2 linked regions of the Homo sapiens genome follow. The protein of the gene in region 1 interacts with the protein of each later gene in a pairwise test. Each region holds a gene or a part of one and is shown in the gene's direction. Other genes may lie near its edges.

The links. Proteins that work in one complex are often made in the same cells at the same time.
Region 2: the proteins of RALB (region 1) and EXOC2 interact in a two-hybrid assay, tested with the Homo sapiens proteins (2 studies listed by BioGRID).

Annotation. Positions count from the first base shown.
Region 1 is NC_000002.12:120,283,665-120,291,365, forward strand, and holds part of RALB (ras-related protein Ral-B), read left to right. Parts: intron 1-2,209; coding exon 2,210-2,418; intron 2,419-5,915; coding exon 5,916-6,093; intron 6,094-7,701. UniProt on the Homo sapiens protein: Multifunctional GTPase involved in a variety of cellular processes including gene expression, cell migration, cell proliferation, oncogenic transformation and membrane trafficking.
Region 2 is NC_000006.12:690,037-698,142, reverse strand, and holds the start of EXOC2 (exocyst complex component 2), read left to right. Parts: upstream 1-5,003; 5' UTR 5,004-5,124; exon of another isoform or gene 5,125-5,869; intron 5,870-8,106. UniProt on the Homo sapiens protein: Component of the exocyst complex involved in the docking of exocytic vesicles with fusion sites on the plasma membrane.

The DNA of each region.
Region 1 (7,701 bases):
CTTTGGCAGCAACCGTTTCAGACTTTCAGTCTCTGGCAGCTTAGAGGAAAGTCAGCTTAGAAAGAAAGGGTCCACGTGAAGTTTGTCTTAGACTCTTGGGCATCTGAAACTGAGCCATGCAGAGCTCTGCAAGGCCAGTAGGGGATACGTATGGTTCACGCTAATGGATACAAAGACTTTGTGATTTTCTGTTTCCAGCTGAGCAATGTAAATAAACATCAGGGTTGTAATGGAATGTTGGGGTAATCAGCATACTTTTCATTGAGTACAGAGGTATGTAGGTACAGCAGGACATTCTGACTTCTGTGTCAAAGGAGCCAGTGGAACTCTGGCTGGCTTTATCCTTGGAAGCTCAGAAATATACAGTTGAGATAATTTATGGTAGAATTCAGAGATTTTCAGGGGACAGTCGTGTGTTGGATTTTTTTGGCGTGTATTTTTCTTTTTGGAAAGGAGTTAAAAGAAGGACACTTGAAAGCACAGGCAAGTTTTCACATCTCTATTTGGAGATAATTTATTAGTACACGTTGAAGAGAACCTAATACTAAACATGTCTTAATATTTTTATTTTTGAGTAGCTGTTAACTGACAATACAAGGCTCTTTTTAACAGTCTTCCTCAAATAACCTTTAATTCACTTGGACATTTTCAATTCCATTTTTAAGTTAAAAAAATTTTAAATCACAGCCTTATTAAGATGTAATGCACATATGAAATTCGCTCTTTTTAAAGTGTACAATTTTTTTTTTTTGAGATGTAGTTTTTCTCTTGTTGCCTAGGCTGGAGTGCAATGGCACGATCTTGGTTCACTGCAAGCGCCACTTCCCAGGTTCAAGTGATTCTCCTGCCTCAGCCTCCTGAGTAGCTGGGATTACAGGTGTGCACCACCATACCTGGCTAATCTTTTGTATTTTTAGTAGAGATGGGTTTTCACCATGTTAGCCAGGCTGGTCTCGAACTCCTGACCTCAGGTGATCTGCCTGCCCCGGCCTAAAGTGTACAATTTAATAGGTTTTTTTTGTATATTCATACAGATGTGCAACCATCACCATTATCTAATTTTAGATCACTTTCATCACTCCAAAAAAAACCAACCTACGTATTAGTAGTCATTCCCCGTTATTGCTTCCCCGTCCCACCCCTGGCCTCTGGCAACTGCTTTCTGCTTCTATGGATTTGCCTATTCTGGACATTTCATATAGATGGAATCATACAATATGTGGCCTTTATGTCTAACTTCTTTCACTCAGCATCATGTTTTGAAAGTTGTTCCATGTTGCAGCGTGCGTTGGTACTACTTCATTCCTTTCTCAAAAACCCACACCACTGAAAGCCTCTTGGTACACTGTGTTAGTTCATTCTCTTGATGCTGTGAAGAAATACCCAAGACTGGGTAGTTTATAAAGAAAAGAGGTGTATAGCCTCTTTTCTTCCACAGGGCTGGGGAGGCCTCAGGAAACTTACAATCATGGCAGAAGGGGGAGCAAACATGTCCTTCACAAGGCGCCAGGAAGAAGTGCAGAGCGAAGTGGGGAAAAGCCCCTTATGAAACCATCAGGTCCTGTGAGAACGAACTCACTATCACAAGAACAGCATAGGGGTACCGCCCCCATGATCTCATTGTCTCCCATAAGGTCACTTCCCCAACACATTGGGATGATAATTCGGATTACAACCTAAATGATGAGATTTGGGTGGGGATGCAGAACCAGACCATATCATACATCTTGCCAAATTACTTTTCAGATGAATTTTATACTTCCGTTATGAATAAGAACTCCAGTTTTTTGATATACCTAATGTTAAATGACGAGTTAATGGGTGCAGCACACCAACATGACACGTGTATACATGTGTAACAAACCTGCACATTGTGCATATGTACCCTAAAACTTAAAGTATAATTAAAAAAGAATTCCAGTTTCTCACCCTTGCAGGTGTTTGCATTAAAATTTTATACTGACAATAATATTGCCAAGTGTTCTGCTCTGTGCCTGGTTTCCTCATCTGTAAATTGGGATATCTGCCTGTATTGTTTAAAAACAAAAAATGGCAAAACAGAGCTATAAAGAACAGAAGTGTTACGTAAAATGTTGCTTCTGTAGTGTCCTGTTCATAGTGTGAAGTGCCCATATGTGGAATTTTGTTTTTTGGCAGATTTTGTTCCCCTTAAGACTTTGTTAATTACCGATAATGTTTATTTCCTCAGTTTGTAGAAGACTATGAACCTACCAAAGCTGACAGTTATAGAAAGAAAGTGGTTCTTGATGGGGAAGAAGTTCAGATAGATATTCTGGACACCGCTGGGCAAGAGGACTACGCAGCCATTCGAGATAACTACTTTCGGAGTGGGGAAGGGTTTCTTCTTGTGTTCTCAATCACAGAACATGAATCCTTTACAGCAACTGCCGAATTCAGGTATGTCTGAAATGAAATAGCAGAAGCCCCCAGGAAGCTTTTTGCCTTTTCTCATATGTCTTAGGCCTATGAAGAATTTGGGGCTGAGCATACTAGGAGAGGGCTGAGCTTGTTCTCAGGAATAATTCTGTCTAAAGAATCTTCTGGGGCTTTCTGAATCTTGGCACATTATAGACTATGATGATTATAATCTCTTTGGGCTTTCCTGATCTGTGATTTCTGAATAAAATAATTTTAAGAGTCTTACTGTCCCCGAAAACAATGAAGCTATTCCATATAATCAAGAACATATAATTTTGTTCCTATAAATACTCAGAGATTTTCATTGATAAATTAACCATCTATCCTTTAAATAATGTTACTAAAAAAAGTAGCAGGTTTAGTCTGTGTTGAAGGTTATGAAACAATGACTGGAAAGTGAAAGATGGGAGTCAAAATGACCATTTGCTGCTACTTAAGGACTTTCAGCACAGTGGAGGGACGAGAACGCGGCTTTAGAGTCAGGAGACCTGGTTTGAATCCCTGCCTTGCCGCTCACTGACCATGGGCAAGTTTACTTAGTGTCAGGATTTTGTTTCTTTCTCTGGAAATGCACTTGTGAGTTGAGAAATGAAATGAAAGGATGTATTAGACTGTGAATTTCATGTGGGCAAGAACCTGGCTACCCTCCATTGTCCCCTGTCACAGTGTAGACACATGGTGCTTCCATAGTGAGTAGAATATCCATTGTTATTTATTTTAAAATATGGCAACTATTCTCCATGAAGGTGTTAGAGAAGAAAGAAAAAGAAAATATAGCAGTGAAAAAAATACCTTCAGTTCATTTTGTTATAAAGAAATAGCCTTTTGGGCATAATTCTTATGCTCTATAAATGTCTCTTTACCCCATGCCCTTCCCTTTCTCCTACATAATTGAGTTTTAAAAAATCTGTTCTTCTTATAAACATATCTATCTAGATGACTTTTTAAGAAGCAGATCTAGAGTTTAGTAGGGAACTGAAGAGAAAAAACCCAAAAATCAAATCAGTTTTTTTCATTCTTCAGCAAGTTCTGGTCTGACAGTAAGGTGGTCAACCAGAGGTGAAAAGGAGAAAGCTAGCTATCCTTCCAGGACTTGGATGGAAGCATCACTGAGCCAGGGAGGCCTCGGGTGAGCACAGGTCACCCAGCAGGGCTAGTGAAAGATAATAGGGAGGTGCCTCAGTGATGCTTCATAGCTCCAGGCTTCAGAGTCGAAGACCTACTTTTCTGGAAGCAGAGTGCGTGTGGTGCAGTGACTAGTTAAGTGACTATGACTCATTATGAGAAGTTCTGTTAATTTTTAGACATTTCAGACCTTCCTAAGGGCTGCTCTGTTTGAATGTAGCCCATGTATTTATAATTGTTTGCATCTGCGTAGTCCTGTTTTTAATGCCTCATAGAGGGTAAAACAGGACAGATGCACACACTCTCTTCTTTTCTTCCCTGTCCCGAGCCTTTTGATTTCCTGTTGTTCTGTGACTTACTTAGAAGGGAAGTGGGCAGGAGAGTTCTCTGCAGAGGATATGGAGAAATACAGGTATTTCAAGTGCTCCTTGTCCTCTCCTCAGTCACCACACATGCACAGATAGCACTCGGGCGTTCTCACAGAGTTGGAGCAGGGCTCCCCTCAATGTGGAAAAGGGTTTTGGTTGTTAGGTGGAAAGAGAGATCCTTAGAAGAAAAAGGACAGATGAATACCTAAAACCAGAAAGAAGGGGAAGTTGACCTCTGCGTAGGTTTCTCATGTTGTTGGGAACAGAAGAATGCAGGTCAATTATCTGAGCCCTGTGGCTAAACTCAAGTCACTTTACTTCATGTCTGTTAGCAGTTTTAAAACAGCATTTGTGTACTATCTTCCAAATAGAAAGGCCCCAATATAAAATGACATGTGAATATGCTGTCTTCCTTGAAACTTTTTCTGGAAAATATTTTATGAACTAAGATAAGTTCTGTCATAAGAGACCAGAACTTGGTACTCCCATTTTTGGATCGATATGTTTATCAATGAGGTAATTTTGTGTGCCCCTGCAAGACTAATGAGCCAGAAAGCTATCAGTTTTTATTGTTCATAGTTTATAATGATCACATGACTTCAAATGTATCATGTTCTTTGACCCCAGTTCAAATGTAGGCTATAACAAGGCTACACAAAGCCAATTTCAAGCATCTTTTCATCTTTTTTAGTTTGTCTTAAAATATTTGATGTCTGGCACTTAAATTGACTACATGAAAATTTTAGTTTTTTTTTTTGTTTTTTTTTTTGTAGATACAAGGTCTCCCTATGTTGCCCAGGCTGGTCTTGAACTCCTGGGCTCAAGTGTTCCTCCCTCCTCAGGCTCCCAGAGTGCTGGCATTACAGATGTGAGCCACCACGCCTAGAAAATATTTTTATTATTGTGAAATGTTACCCTATACCATATAAAAATCAATACAGATCTCTACAAAATACATTTTTGAAGGGGACTCTTTTTAGAATGTATTGGCATATAAAAGTAGAAATATTCTCATGGGACCAAAATAATGGAAATGGGGTATTTAATTTTTTTAAATATTTAGTTTTGATTAGTACTTTCAGATAGCTGATAATTTTTAGTAGACGTAAAATTTAATATGCTACGAGTAATGGTATTTTTGTAGAAGACACTTTTGAAGTACTTTTCCATAGGGCTTGTCGTATTTCCTTTCATTTTTTTCACTTTGTAGTAGAAAAATGGTACGTATTGGAATGTGATTACTGCCTAACATATCTGTCTCGATTCTGTGGCCTATAACATTACTGTGTCTGCATGGAAACTGGGGATGGGATGACATACTTGTCGTGTACACATGCAGATCTAATCAAAACTGAAGTTTCAAAACAATACAATATTCACCTTTCCTACTTGAGATTCCCTTGGATATTTCTGATCTGGTCAGTTCTGTTCTATAATCTATTTCACTGCAGGGGGGAGAAACTGCTGGTTGCGACCCACTAGATTGGTTTTGTGATCCACTAATAGGCTGCCACCTTCCATATAGAAAACACTGGATTTCATAGCTTTTATGTCACAAACAAATATTTTCAGGGGAATTAAGCATTTTATGGAGATAGTTCCCTTAGCTTGTTTTTATTGCAGAGATTGACCATTTTTCTTCTTTTTGTTTTTTTTTTTGTGTGTGCATAAGTTGGGGACCCTGTTGTGACGTAAAATCCTGGGCTCCTATCCAGACACTTCTGTAAGACTGAGCCCAGAAATCTGCATTTGTGATGAGCATCCCAGGGGATTCTGATGTGGGCAAACTGAGAAGCAGACTTGGAAAACACTTGTCTTGCTCATGACTGCCTCTAGGGAGTGCTTTCTCAGAACATGCCCTAAATCTAGTGATTTTTTTTTTTCCTTCTGCCTTAGGAAAGCCTTTTATTTTAGATGGGTTCACAAAACCAGGGTTCGTTCTTTAGTTTTTTTAGCTGCTGTATTTTTGGTGTAACACCTTAGGGAACAGATTCTCCGTGTGAAGGCTGAAGAAGATAAAATTCCACTGCTCGTCGTGGGAAACAAGTCTGACCTAGAGGAGCGGAGGCAGGTGCCTGTGGAGGAGGCCAGGAGTAAAGCCGAAGAGTGGGGCGTGCAGTACGTGGAGACGTCAGCGAAGACCCGGGCCAACGTGGACAAGGTAGGCGTGAATTCTGTGTATTTCTCAGAAACAGACCTGAGAAACAGCAGAATGGAGGCATCTCATCTGCTGGGTTTTAGGGAACCATTTATGAAAACTAGGTGAAGATTCTGATTCCTATGAATGTCTAAGCCATTATCATGATTATAATGAGAAACATTGAGAGGATGTCACCTTGTATTTCAGACAACTCACAGAACCTTTTACTTTGTCATGAGGCTTCATTAGAGTATGCTTAATGTGTTCTTTTGGGTTTTTCTTTTTTGAGACAAAGTCTCACTGTGACACCAGGCTGGAGTGGTGTGATCTCAGTTCACTGCAACCTCTGCCTCCTGGGCTCAAGCAATCCTCCTACCTCAGCCTCCCAAGTAGCTGGGACTACAGGTGTGCACCACCACACTGGCTGTTTTTTGTGGAGATGGGGTTTCACCATGTTGCCCAGGGTGGTCTCAAATTCCTGGGCTCAAGTGATCTGCCTGCCTCAGCCTCCCAAAGTGCTGGGATTACAGGTGTGAGCCACCACACCCGGCGGACTATGCTTACTGTTGGTGTGGTCCTGGGAAGGATGGTGGGACGAGGCCATTGGTTTGTGAAGGCTGGGCTGGAGGGATGGACGTCATTAGCTTCTGTGTGTGCTCTCACCTTCCACAGCCTTGCTCTTCAGGAGCAGGGTGGGCGGGCCTGGCTGCTTCTAGGAGGTTCCCCTGGAGGTGCCCTTGAAAGATACGTGGAGCTTCTTGATTTTGCTCTCATTGAGTTATTGGTCAGATTTGTTCTTTTCACCTTACTGTTCACTGACAGAGCCACAGTGTTCCATCTTTGTAGTGTAGTCTCTAAATAGTATTTGCTCTCAGAACTCAAATCTCTGGGATCTCTTTTTTTTTTTTATCTCTTATCCCATCCCAGCATACTTTCTCATTCAAATCTCTGAAGCTAATAAAAGGGTGACCTTGAGTGACAATGATGAATGCTGACAATTTGAAAATCCACCTATCAGGGATTGCTATTGTTAGGCCTTTTTTCTTTTTAAAATTAAAGTTCAAGGTGGTTGCCACACAGCTAAAATTTTAACGCTGTGCCTTAAAGATGAGGCTTTCTGCCTTGACCTCATTCACTAGCTCTCACTGCATATCCATGTGCTTGTAGAATCTAAGCACATAGCACTTTGGCAGCCACACAGTGGACACGTCTGCTTTTTGTTCTGCAGCATCAGCATCTGAATCCCCTATATCCTGTCTTCTGTTTCTCTTTCTTGTGCAGAAACATTCCCCTTTGCTTTCATTACCTGACAAGGGAGAGATTTTTATCCAAGCTTTATTTTCACTTGAAGTGATGCTAGAAGAACATTGGTATTTAGAATGTTGGTATTAGAAGGGGTTTGCTTTAGACGCACTTCGGCAAGATACATCTATTTGTATGTATCGTACATAAAAACATGTATCTTAGGAGACATATACATATAGGATAGATATACATATAGGATACATATATTGTACAACCTAAGTCCGTTTAGTTGTAATCTGCAATGGGAAGCGCGTGTTCCGCCGTCAGCTTTTCTTTATATTGTCATCTCTCAACTCTTACACTCTTATATTATTGTGCTACTTA
Region 2 (8,106 bases), on another chromosome or scaffold:
CATCCCACAGCACAGCTTCCAACTCTGCTGGAGCGTTCGCTGTGCCTTTGTGGGGCCATGCTGATGTCCTATCAGGGTGGCAGTCTGGGGTGTGCGATCTATGGTGGAACCAGTGGAGCTTGCGGTCACGTCCCCTCTGTCTGCCTCTTTCGCTCTTACAAGGGTGCTTGGTCCAAGGTGGTATTATGGGAAATCCTGTGATAAGGCAAGACATTCTGTAAGCAATTGGGTAGTCATGCCTGGAAGGCTCTACAAGCAAGGAAGACAAACCCAAACCCAAACCCAGAATATGCATCTGGGCCTATGGAAATCAACTTGCCACCGAGAGACGGCAGCCACCATACCATGGGCTGCCCATTGGCCTCTACGGCTGGAGAGGGCAGAGGCACTGTCTAGATCTGCCTTTTTCTGTGGGTCCCTGTAGCCTCCAACCCTGTGAATGGCCATTCCATTCACAGGCCCATTGTGCAGAGACTGCCTGACCTGCCCTAGCTGAATCATCCCATTTGCTCTGTGCTCTGCTGCGGATGCTGTCTGCCGGGCAGGCATTTGTGTAAGACACATAGATGGGCCAAATACTGTTTGTGTGAGGAGCATGTGTGAGTTCTTGAGCTGAGAGGCTGTGATATCCACAGCATGGTTATGCAGCTGCTTCCTGGCCACCCTCCTCTCCATCCAGCTCTTATGTTTCTCCAGCAGGTCTCCTACCTTTGGGAATTTCTGCACCAAAAGCAGGCACATACTCTTGGTCACATATAGTCCTGAGGGCAGCCCAACTCCGCCAAGAACTCCACACTGATGCTCAGCTCCACTCTGACAGCAGCAAGCACAGGCTCGTGGGTGCCTCGAGCCAACAGGTACTAACCCAGATTAAAACAGCTGAGTGAATTCCTCATAAGCTCCAAAAGGCATCTAACCCAGATTAAAACAGCTGAGTGAATTCCTCATAAGCTCCAAGAGGCGTCTAACCCAGATTAAAACAGCTGAGTGAATTCCTCATAAGCTTCAAGAGGTGTCTTACCCAATTGCTGGGGGCTTTCTTTTCTTCCTTTTCTTTTTTTTTGACAGCGTCTCACTCCGTAGCCTAGGCTGGAGTGCAGTGGCACAATCTCGGCTCACTGCAACCTCCGCCTCCAGGGTTCAAGTGATTCTCCTGTCTCAGCCTCCCAAGTAGCTGGGACTACAGGCACGTGCAACCACGCCCGGCTAATTTTTTGTATTTTTAGTAGAGACGGCGTTTCACCATGTTAGCCAGGATGGTCTCAACCTCCTGGCCTCATGATCCACCCGCCTTGGCCTCCCAAAGTGCTGGGATTACAAGCATGAGCCACCGCGCCCGGCCAGGGGGCTTTCTCTATAGTGCGGGGAGACTTTAGGGTGACCATATAGCGTCTAAAAGGAACACTTTTGACAGTAAAAAGGGCACTCAATAATTAAGCCTTCATAACAGACACAAATCAGTCATCCCACGCAAAGTGGAACATGTGGTCACCTTAGTTATCTGCCTTCTTTGCCAGTTCAAGTGGCCAATTCCAGGATAACCAGAAAAACCCATCTAAATATCCTGTCACACCAGCTTAAACCCCATGATCCTGTCTGATGTTATTTCTCTGCATAGAACCCGAACTCCTCTGTTCCCTGCTCCATCTTCTGTGTCAAACTCCAATCTCAGCTACAACTAATTTTCTAACTCCCTGCCTGCACTAGAGCAGCCAAAACAACACAAGCAGGCCGACTGGTTCCATTTGAGACTTAAGACCACACATCCCAAGTGGGCATTCTGCCCTGCCTGGCAATCTGGCTACATATCCTTAACAATTCGCCTTACAATGTCTAAGTTAACAATCTCACCCCTTCTCAGTCCTCCCTCGTCCCCACCCCCTGCTCACAGATGATCTTGTTGGTTCCTTTGTTAACACAGAAGCAACCAGAAGAGTATTTTCTCACTTTCTCCTCACCATGTCTACCAACCCACAGCTATAGCTTCACATTCCGCTCACTCTCCTACTACACAGCTCAACTCTGGTGGCTCCTAAGAACAACCTCTGCCCTCGTGCAACAGGTCCTACCCTCTCTTACCTTTCTCAAAGACTTGCTCTGCAGTTGCTCCCTCTCTCCTGCATCAGCGGTTCCCTCTTTACATGTTTTGTTAATAGCTCCCATCTTAAAACAGACTTTTTCCTTGATACCATGCCTCTCTAGCAACTACCGCCCATCTCTGCTCCCTTTGTCACACAACTCCTCAGAGGGGTTGTCAAAGTAGCCAGATGAAAATACAGAACATCCAGTTAAATGTGAATTTCAGATAGTAACAATTTAGTATACGTATGTCCCGTGCAATATTGGGGCCGTACTTTTACTAACAAATACTAAAACTGTGTCTGGAATTGGTAAGTTCTTGGTCTCACTGACTTCAAGAATGAAGCCGCGGACCCTTGCGGTATGTGTTACAGTTCCTAAAGGCGGCGTATCTGGAGTTTGCTCCTTCTGATGTTCAGATGTGTTCGGAGTTTCTTCCTTCTGGTAGGGTCGTGATCTCGCTGGTTCAGGAGTGAAGCTAGAGACCTTCGCGGCGAGAGTTACAGCTCATAGAGGCAGTGTGGACCCAAAGTATAAACAGCAGCCAGATTTACCCCAAAGAGCAAAAAAATAAAACTTCCACAGTGTGGAAAGAAACCGGAGCAAACTACCACTGCCAGCTCGGGCAGGCTGCGTTTATTCTCTTATCTGGCCCCCACCCACATCCTGCTGATGATTGGTCCATTTTACAGAGAGCCGATTGGTCCATTTTACAGAGAGCTGATCGGTCCATTTTGACAGGGTGCTGATTGGTGCGTTTACAATCCCTGAGCTGGACACAAAAGTTCTCCACCTCCCCACGAGATTAGCTAGACACAGATTTTGGACACAAAGGTTCTCCAAGTCCCCACCAGAGTAGCTAGATACAGAGTGTCGATTGGTGCATTCACAAACCCTGAGCTAGACACAGGGTGCGGACTGGTGTGTTTACAAACCTTGAGCTAGATACAGTGTGCCGATTGGTGTATTTATAATCCCTGGGCTAGACATAAAGGTTCTCCAAGTCCCCACCAGACTCAGGAACCCAGCTGGCTTCACCCAGTGGATCCCGACCGGGGCCGCAGGTGGAGCCGCCTGCCAGTCCCGAGCCATGCGCCCACACTCCTCAGCCCTTGGGTGGTCGATGGGACTGGGGGCCGTGAAGCAGGGGGCAGCGCTCGTCGGGGAGGCTCGGGCGCACGGAAGCCCATGGCGGGGGGGGTTGGCTCAGGCACTGCAGGCTGCAGGTCCCCAGCCCTGCCCCGCGGGAAGGCAGCTAAGGCCCGGGGAGAAATTGAGCACAGCAGCTGCTGGCCCAGGTGCTAAGCCCCTCACTGCCCAGGGCCGGCGGGTTGGCTGGCCGCTCCGAGTGCCGGCCCGCTGAGCCCACGCCCACCCAGAACTCGCGCTGGCCCGCAAGTGCCGCACGCAGCCCGGGTTCCCACCAGCGCCTCTCCCTCCACACCTCCCCACAAGCTGAGGGAGCCGGCTCCGGCCTTGGCCAGCCTAGAAAGGGGCTCCCACAGTGCAGCGGTGGGCTGAAGGGCTCCTCAAGCACAGCCAGAGTGGGTGCCAAGGCCGAGGAGGTGCCCAGAGCGAGCGAGGGCTGTGAGGGCTGCCAGCACGCTGTCACCTCTCAAAACAATGTTTTAGTAGAAGTATATCCCATGCAACATTAGTTTAGTGATAAATATATCTATACTACAAATTACTTGTTGTTTATCTGAAATTAAACTTTACTGGGTATTTGTATTTTTATTGCTAAATCTGCCAACCTAGGTTGTTGAAACTTACTTTTTTCCACTTCACTTAATATTCTTTTCACAGTCCACTCTGACGAGATGTAGCTTCCCCACACTCCTTTGAAACTGCTTTTGTCAAGGATGCCAATGACTGGCATATGCCAAACTCAATTGTCTCTGGAGTCTTGGCCTCACAGTACTTCTGAACATTGGCTATCAATTCCTCCTTCCTGAAACTATTTAGCTTCCAGAATCCGCTACCCCCACTTTCCTGATTGTCCTTCCTCCCTGGCCATAGCCCCTGAACCCGAGCTTCCCCCAACCTAGAGCATCCCCTGACCCTAAGTATCCCCCCAACCCTGAGAACCCCCTGACCCCGAGTATCCCCCGACCTCGAGAACTCCCCGACCCCGAGCATCCCCCCAACCCCCAGCATCCCACGACCCCGGGCATCTCCCCCGATCCTGCGCATCCCCTGACCTGGTATGGCGCCCTGACCCAGTGCAGCCCTCAAACCCCTGCAGCCCCCTGACCCCATGCATCCTCCTGACCTAGGGCTGCCCCTGACTCAATGTTGCCCCCGGACCCCAGTGCCTCCTCCTGACCTGAGGCACGCCCCCCAACCTGGTACAGTCCCCTGATTCCAGTGCATCCTTCTGACCCAGTGCTGCCTCCTAACCTGGTGCATCCTCCTTACCCAGTGTGGCCCCCTGGGGATGCACACTCCAGTGCATCCTCCTGACCTGATGCTTCCTCTGGTCTCGGTGCAGCCCCCCTGACCTGGTGCAGCCCTCTGATTCCATGCATTCTCTTGACCTTGTGCATCCCCCTGTTCCGGAGGGGTCCTCTGACCCGATGCAGGGCCCATCGTTGTGAACTGTGGCCCACAAACGCACTATCATCCCACAGTCTCCCTGAGATGACCCGAGGGCACGGGGATGGATGGTGCACCCGGCCTGCCCCTTGAGCTTGTATCCTTCTTTCCCTCCCTCACCGCTTCCCGCCACCGCAAAGACGCCCAGCAAAAACCTCCTACTCGTGTCCATTCAGGCAGCTGGGTCCCTCGGAACCCAAGGCATTCCAGCGTCCACCGCCCACGGCCCCTGCTGACCTCCAGCACCCGCGCCGGTCTCCTCCCCTCCTCTACCCTCCCCTGAAGGCTCCGCCCATCGAGGACTCGGCGCTCGACTGCCAGGCGGATCTACACGCTCGGCGCTCGCGGCGGGCGGAAGTGAGGTGCCGGCGGCTGGCGGCCGCGGAGTCTTCGGCGAGACCTACCGGGCCCTGTCTGTGCCGGCCGTGAGCTGCGGCAGGACGGCTGGAGGTATGTGTGGGAGGCTGGAGGGCCTGGCCGAAGGCCAGCGGGACATGGACGTCAGCTGCACGGAGGTGGCCGCCTGCGGCGTCCGTCCAGGCCTCAGCGGTGAAGGGACAGCCGCGCCCACTGGCGCCGTCGGTCACCTGCGGGGCCCCGCGACCCCCCGCGGTTCCCAGCCCCGCAGCCCCCATCCCCGCCGTCAGCCGCCTGCTGGGCTCCGCGCCCACCCCCGCCAGTTCGCACCCCCGCGGTCCCCACCTGCGCCGGTGAGGGGCGTGGGCTGCAGAGGGCTGACTCCAGGCCCCGCCCGCTGGAGCTGGCCCCAGACTGCGCCGCTTCGCCCTTGCGCAGTTGCCACTCCGTGAGATTTGAGAATTTCTCCGGAAAAGTGAACGCGAGGCGGGTGTTACCTGTCTGCCTAGGCGTGCATCCCGCTCTGGCTGTCCTGAGCGCTTAAAAGGCGCCTGCCGCTGTTGTCAGCGTTTGCGTGCACGTACTTGATCCTCGCGCGGGTGTATGTACGCTGCCGTGTGACCCATTTTACGGATAGGGGAGCGGCGGCTCAGAGTGCTTGAGCAAAGAGCCTGAGGTCCTGTTGTAGCTGCCATTGAGACCTTGCGCGCCGGCTCCAGGTCCGCACACCAGCAGCCTGGAAGCCTGGTGATGCGTAACCCTGTATCCCAAGATTGTTAAGAAAACACTTTAGTAATTCCGAGAAATAGTTCTTGAAAGAACTCGTCTTTGAATGGAAGTAAGTTATTTTTAATCTGCCAAAGGTCAACATACTAATAAGTCTGAGAAATTTTAAGTCTGATGCCTTTATGAATCTGTGAGTAAACTTACAAGGAACACTTAAAAAATATTTTTTCTAAGTTAGCCACACTTTAATTAAATCTTTTTGTGTGCACTATGCAATATTGAAAAGTTACTTCTGAGCTTATGTGGATCTGTCTTCTAATGCATAATAATGTTTTGTTTATGAATGTTAGTATGTACTGGCCCATGCTTTGTGTAACTGACTCCTTTAATGACAAATCAACTGAAAGCCAGAATCTTCTCAAAGATGATTTTTTTGTGCTAAAAGTTGGCGATTCCCAGAGTAGTAATAGAAAGAGGGTGATGTGTGCTTAGTACTTACATGTTCACTTGTTTGTCTAAGTAGAAACTTAATAAATTAAAGCAGAGAAGCAGAGTTCCCCCAGTGTGACTTGGACCAACTCTTGGAAGTTTTAGAAAGTGATCTTTTTTTCTTGTCAAGTATTTAATTTCCTGTATTGAATGCCATTTTGAACTACAGTTGACCCTTGAACAACACTGGGGTTAGGGGTGCCCACGCAGTCAAAAATTTCCATGTAACTTTTGACTTTCCCAGGACTTTACTAATAGCCTACTGTTGACCAGAAGCCTTACTGATACATAAACAGTTGACTTACATGTATTTTGTATGTTATACGTATTATATACTGTATTCTTAAAGTAAGCTGAGAGAGGAAAATGTTAAAATCACAACAAATGTATTTACTCTTCTTTAAATGAAAGTGGAGAATCATGAAGGTTATTATCCCCATAGTCTGCATGAGTAGATTGTGGAGGAGGAAGAAGAGGAGGGATTTTCTCAGGAATGGCAGAGATGGAAGAGATGGAGGAAGTGAAAGGGGAGTGGGAGATGCAGGCACACTCAGTGCAACTTTTGTTGAAAAAATCCGTGTATAAGTGGATCTGTCTCATTCAAACCCATGTTGCTTAAGGGTCAACTGTATTACTTTTCTAAAAGATGGTTATTAACTTGCTAAGTTCTTGGGAGCCCATTATGTAAGAATCATATGGGAAATGAAGTTGGTACTGAAAAAATAGTCTTCTAGCAAAGAACTTTTAATATTTCTAGTGTCAAGCAGCAGCAAGATTAGGCCATACAGGAAGTGCTGGTTACAGAGGTGTCCTCTCAGTTACTTTTCCACTCATTCTCCAGTTTACGCATCTTAATCCAGCCTGGGTTCCTAGTCCAGCGTCTGCCACATAGTAGGTGCTTAAATGTTTATTGAATGGATGAATTTTAGGTCACTGTTGAGAGGATTTTGAAACTGGGAAATAACATTCATTGATCACTCTGCTAAGCGGTGTACTAGGATGTTGATTGTACTCAGATCCTGGGGAATATGTTCTTGGACCTTCTGGACTGCCTGCTGAAATCACATGGTGATAGTGTGGACTTCTAATCATATGCTTTAGAGTATGTTTATATTAGTCAAAAATTATTATTGATATGAATACACAAACTTAAAAGTAATTGTAATGAAATTATGAATCTTTTTTGTATTTTTAAAGACAGAGTCTCACCCTGTTGCCTAGGCTGAAGTACAGTGGCGAGATCTCTGCTCAGTGCAAGCTCTGCCTCCCGGGTTCACGCCATTCTGCCGCCTCAGCCTCCCAAGTAGCTGGGACTACAGGCGCCCGTCACCACGCCCGACTAACTTTTTGTATTTTTAGTAGAGACGGGGTTTCACCGTCGCGATCCTCGTGACGGTGGACCTCGTGATCCACCCACCTCGGCCTCCCAGAGTGCTGGGATTACAGGCGTGAACCCCTGCGCCGGGCCGGGAAATTATGAATCTTAAAGCGATGGGTGACACACGCATCGGCATCCTTCAATCTCAGTTTGTTTATTGATTGAAAGGGGGTCTTGTTCTGTCACCCAGGCTAGAGTGCAGTGGCACAGTCACAACACACTGCAGCCTTGAGCGCCATGATTCCAGAAATCCTTCTACCTCAGCCTCCCAAGTAGCTGGGACTATAGGTGCGTGCCACCGGGTTCGGCTCATTTTAAAAATTATTTGTGGAGGTGAGGTCTTCCTACGTTGCCCAGGCTGGTCTTGAACTCCTGAATGCAAGTGATGCGCTGGCCTCAGCTTCCCAGTGCTGGGACTATAGGTGTGACCCACTGTGCCTGGCTGATCTCAATTTGAAAATCACAGAGTCAAAAGGTATTTT